2 separate regions of the Homo sapiens genome follow, and region 1 is linked to region 2. The links come from fine-mapping of genetic effects on gene expression. A gene starts in region 2. The other region holds a variant in brackets. All regions are shown on one strand. Distances are between the middles of the regions.

Region 1 (2,912 bases), 55 kb after region 2:
AGGGAGGTGATTGGATCACAGGACAATTTCCCCCGTGCTGTTCTTGTGATAGTGAGTTCTCACGAGATCTGATGGTTTTATAAGCATCTGGCATTTCCCCTGCTTGCACTTCTCTCTCTCCTGCCACCATATGAAGAAGTTCCTTGCTTCCCCTTCCACGGTGATTGTCGGTTTCCTGAAGCCTTATTGGCCATGTGGAACTGTGAGTCAATTAAACCTCTTTTCTTTATAAATAACCTAGTCTTGTGTATCTCTTTACAGTAGTGTGAAAATTGACTAATACAGTCTGGTTCTTCAAAAAGCAAAGATTTGGATGAAGTAGTTTATTTGGAGGATGATCCCATTGCAAGGGAATGGGAAACTGAAACAGAGAAGGAAGAAAGCCAACAAATGGTGTATTAATAAGAGAGTACCACTGTGAACAACAAGGGTTCAGTCCCACAGAGGACCCTCTTAGGGAATGGTGTGTAATAACTTTGAATTGTAAAGTTTTTAAAAGGGGTGAGATAGCTGGAATTTTAGCTGCCAATTCCCATTCACAGTAAAAGCTGCTCCTGGCATTAACTCCTGGGCACTTTCGGCCTGCCCTTCATGAGGGCTAAGCCTACTGTCTCAGCCAGAGAACACCCTTAGGTAATAAGATGTAAGAACCAGGTGTGTACAGGTGCCACCCACAGGGGACCTGGGCAAACTGAGGAATATAGATTAATTATTGCTAGTAGCTACTGCTGCTGTATAGCTGAAAAAGATCTGGGATCATAGGGGGCTATGATCCCACCTAAAATCAGCACAGTTGTACTTCCCTGTTTCCCTAGACCAATACTTTTCAAAATTTTCTGACCAATATCCACAGTTAGAAATATATTTTTACATTGTGACACAGTACACATGAATGTTTATATAGTGCACATTTACACCAAAAGTTTTCTAAAATAATGCTTATTCTTTTGAAACAGCATGCACCCTAATATCTTTCTATGTCGCTAGATTTTTTAAAACAAAGATTGAAATTTCCAGTACTGATTTCAAGACCCTCTAAAAACCCTCAATTTATTGTCCTAGCTACTGCAAGTGTGTACTGCTGCAGTGATAAGGAGCTTGAGCAAGACTGTAAATAAATGATGTCACTATGCCCTAAAGTCATTAAGTACTAAACTAATTTCAGCTGACTTTTTTTTTTTTTTTATAGCAAGACAGTCTCAATGAAGGAAGCAGTATGTTGATTGGTATTTTAGCAGTAGGTCTTTATCTAGTCAGAGACTGGAAACAGTTAACAAACACACACTTTGAGCAGCACTGCCCTAGACCGTACTTGAATGGGGTTTTAAAAATGGGCTTAAGACTAAAAATGAATTTTTCTAATGCTTGCCCTTCTCTGTTGTTAAAAGATCCCCAGCCCTCCACAAGTCTTATTTAGTATTTCTTGGGGTCTCATAGGGTTATCTCTGACGAAGTTGCCAAACCATATTTACAGAAGGTTCCAACCTTCTCCTTAGCTTCAAAGGCTAGAATGAA[A/G]GATGAAGACCACTGCCCCCACTCTGCTCACCCCTGCAAGGAGGACCACTCAGCCCTTACTCCTGTGCTTCCTGCCTTTCCACTCCTGCCGCTGCCAGCATACTGGGAAATAAGGTTCAGGTGCCACTTCTGTGGACTAACAAAAGAAGGGAAACTGGGTCCTACACTGCAATTGTGGGCCCCCATCCCAGGTAACAGAGGAGCTCTGTGACGCTGCTATCTTCTAGGGCAACAGTCCTCAAACTGGAGTACCCTAGGATGCTCAACCCAGGGCAATTTTGCTCCCCCAGGTGACATTGGCAATGTCTGAAGACATTTTTGTTGTCACAACTTGAGTGGAGGAATGCTACTGGCTTCTGGTAAATAGAGGTCAGAGATGTTGCTAAATATCCTACAATGCACAGACCAGCCCTCACAACAAAGAAATATTTGACCCAAAAGGTCAATAGTGCCGAGGTTGAGAAAACCTGCCCTAGGGGTACACATAGGCTTCCCAGGGGCAAGTGGGCACTGGTCACTTTAAGCTGATTGGTTAACATGTCTTCCATTTCCATTTGCACCATCTCCTAAATTTGGTTTACCACACTCTGCAAGTTCTACTTTCCCACCTCCTTTTCACAGTGACCTCTCTTCCAAACCCCAAATATACTATCTGGGTATAAAAATCTTGCAGGGCAGCCAGTCGCGGTGGCTCACGCCTATAATCCCAGCACTTTGGGAGGCCGAGGCGGGCAGATTACGAGGTCAGGAGATCGAGACCATCTTGGCCTGTTAACATGGTGAAACCTCATCTCTACTAAAATACAAAAAATTAGCCAGGCGTAGTGGTGTGTGCCCGTAACCCCAGCTACTTGGGAGGCTGAGGCATGGGAATCACTTGAACCCGGGAGGCGGTGGTTGCAGTGAGCTGAGATGGTGCCACTGCTGCACTCCAGCCTGGCAACAGAGCAAGACTCCATCTCAAAAAAAAAAAAAAAAAAAAAAAAAAATCTTGTAGGGCAAGCCAGGTGTGGTGGTGCATGCCTGTAGTCCCAGCTACTCATGAGGCTGAGGCAGGAGGATCATTTTGAGCCTAGAGGTTCCAGGTCACCATGAGTTCTGATTGTGCCATTGTATTCTAGCCTGGGTGACAGAGTGGAGTCTTGTCTCTTAGAAAAAAAAAAAAAAAGATTTATGCCAGACATTTCTATAAACCAAATTGGATAAATCTTCAGGGCAAGGTATAATATATAAAATATGACAGGGATTACATCCTTTGCAACCGTTTACATTTATAATAGAAATCTTTACATGTTAACTTTTTTTTTTTTGAGACAGAGTCTGGCTCTGTTGCCCATGCTGTAGTGCAGTGGCACAGTCTCGGCTCACTGCAACCTCTGCCTCCTGGGTTCAAGCAA
Region 2 (2,860 bases):
AAATTAGTCCCGCAGCTACTGGCGATTGGCTGAATTTTTTTTTTTTTTGAGACGGGATCTCACTCTGTCACCCAGGCTGGAGTGCAGTGGCGGATCTCGGCTCCCTGCAACCTCCGTCTCTCAGGTTCAAGCGATTCTTCTGCCTCAGCCTCCTGAGTAGCTGGGACTACAGGCACGTGCCACCAACGCTCGGCTAATTTTTGTATTTGTTCTTTTTTAGTAAAGACGGGGTTTCGCCATGTTGGCCAGATTGGTCCCGAACTCCTGACCTCAGGGGATCCACCCGCCTCGGCCTCCCAAAGTGCTGGGATTACAGGCGTGAGCCACTGCGCCCGGCCTTGGCTGAGTTTTTATTAGATCTGAGCCGTTCAATTTCAATAGTTTAGGATCCAACCTCACTCTCAGGCAAAGAATAGAGGAAATGATACCAACGTATTTATCTGTCAATAAACACTTGGTGATTTGAATATGGTTAAGGGATTCCTGTAGTTTGCCCCCCTTAAAACTGAACTTTGTCCAAACCTGTTCTAAATATGTGTGTGCGTGTGCATGCATCTGGGTGTTGGGGAGGAGCGGTCGTAAAGTTCCTTTTAAATTTCACCTATGGGGGACTACTTCCCACCTCATCCTATGAAGTCAACATTAGCCTAAATACCAAAGCCAGATTAAGACACTACAAGAAAACTACGAAACAATATCTCTCACGAACACAGATGCAGAACTTCTAGACAAAACGTTTCCAAATTGAAGCGAAGACCATATTAAAAGGACAAAAGCACCTCAGTGGTTGCTTGGGGACTGGGGGAGGGGCTGGATTACTATCTTGGCTGTGGTGTCGAAAACCTATCAAATTGTTCACTTTAAATATGTGCAGTTTATTGTATCCCAACCATTCCTCAACAAAGCTGTTTTTCAGAAACATTTGTCCATGTAGTTTTGCCTTTGAATGGTTGGGTCAATGAAGAGAAAAACGAGTGAAAACAGGGAATCATGACACTTTGTTTTTTTACGTGTAAATATTCGCAAAACGCCCAAACTGGTAACTTTGGGAACACGGGTTCACGCAGAAGAAGGGCTGCTGTCTGGGGAGGACTGAAACTCGGGTTCCCGAAGTCGGGCTGCTCTGGGGCCACGGAGAGAAGGGGAGAGAACGTCGAGGAAGAGGCAGAGCTCAAGTGGACGGAGGATGGAACACAGAGCGCGGCCGGGACAAAGGGGCAGGCCAGACAGCCGTGACAGAGAAACTAGGCGGTCCGCTCCTGGGACGCGGTCTCGGGGGCGGGTTCGCCCCTGAGGCCCGGTGACCCTTCGCCCGCAACCAGGGCTAGCGCTTGTGTGCGCCCACGGAAGCACCCGAGCGACCGGAGAAAGAAAAAGTGGTCAAGGGGACCTCCTTCCAGCTCTACGCGCCTCTCATTCAGAGAGGTGAGGTCAGGAAAGGGGAAGGACGAAGCCCCAGAGCAACAGAAGTCAGGCGGTGCCAGGAACACTGAGAGCGGAGCCAGGGGAAGGCGGCCGAGCGCGGCCCCCTCTCCTCCCGGGCCGGGGCGGGCCCGAGGCCTCGATCCGCCTTCCCCGCGCCGTCCTGGTCACGGCCCCGCGGGGCAGCCATGCCTGGCCGTCTGCTGCGGGGCCTGTGGCAGCGATGGCGCCGTTACAAGTACCGCTTCGTTCCCTGGATCGCACTGAACCTAAGCCACAACCCGAGGTGAGAGGGCGGGACGGCAGAACGAGGGGCACCTGCCTTCGGTTCCCAGACGCCACCACGGCGGCGGGACGCAAAGCGGAGAGCCTGAGGCTGACTGCCGGCCTGAGATGGGCGGGCCCGGGTGGGCAGGGACTGAGGTGGGCGGGCCGGGTGGGCGGGGACTGAGGCCTCGGAGGGGTTTAAGGAACGCGGGCCAGAGGCGGGCGGGGCCGAGGTTGGTGGAGTCCGAGGCCCGCTGGAAGCCTGAAGTGGGCGGTGGCTTCAGGTGGGCGGGGCCTATGGCCTCTTTCCCAGTGTCCGCTGCGCTGCCGGGCCCGCGAGGCCGAGCTCGCCAGCCGGATGTGTCGCCTGTTCTTCCCTGTTGCGTTCGGCACTGACTGGGGAGCTTGTATCTGGGCAAAAATGGAAACTTTTTAAAAAGACTGCCCTTACCGCGTGAGAGTGCGTGGCTTTTTCTCCACCAGGGGTTAATTAGGTGCTTGAACTTCCTCAGAAAAGCCAAGCCAGGGTTTATTTTCATAGTTCATACAAGTACTTCACGTGGTTAAAGAAGCCCATCCCGGCTGTGAGAATAGCGTGCAGTAGCTCGCGCGTTAAGAACGGGCAGAACGCCACTCAAAAGCACGTCGGGATGGTGGGTTTCGGATTGGGGTGAGTCCCGCCGGCGTTATTAAGGGCGCACCAGTGATCAGCTCAACACCGTGCTCACCAAAGAGGCCGACCGGGCCTCCCTGAAGTCAGTGTCCGACAAATAGGGAAACAAAGCGGTTTCCGGAAGGTTGCATGCTAGGGAAACAGGAGATCAGTTGTATCATGACTCGGAACCGTGAGGCGGGAATTACAACCTTTTTGTTCAAGTAAAAATAATGCAGTTAGTACAAAAAGATAATGATTATGGAAATAAGAGGTGCAGTCATTGAAGACGTTAGTCGTCCTGGAGGGAGTGTCACAAAGTATACGATGTTGAATTTGTCTTTGAAACTACAAGGCCATTTTTAAAAAGCCATTGAATGTGAGGTCATTCATTCTCATTGTGATGACATTCAGCTTGGCTGTTGGGTGTAGTACGGGAAAGAGCTGAACTTCGTTTCTGCCTCTGGCTCTCCCACTTACTGGCTTTGGGACCTTGAACAAGTTCCCTAACAATTTTGC

The links. PIP is the estimated chance that this variant, and not a neighbour inherited with it, causes the effect.
Region 1: its variant is fine-mapped to the expression of SETD9 in lung (TOPMed, PIP above 0.99).

The regions. Positions count from the first base shown.
Region 1 is chr5:56,963,264-56,966,175 of GRCh38, forward strand. No RefSeq gene overlaps it. Among named protein-coding and RNA genes, the nearest start is that of MIER3, 13 kb to the left of the region's middle. The variant A/G (reference allele first, on the strand shown) is at 1,516.
Region 2 is chr5:56,908,036-56,910,895 of GRCh38, forward strand. SETD9 (SET domain containing 9) reads left to right here and starts at 1,561. Exons shown (of 6, transcript NM_153706.4): 1 at 1,561-1,708. The coding sequence starts at 1,611. RefSeq lists enhancers at 1,197-1,286, 2,077-2,126, 2,222-2,860 and silencers at 1,437-1,646, 1,827-2,036.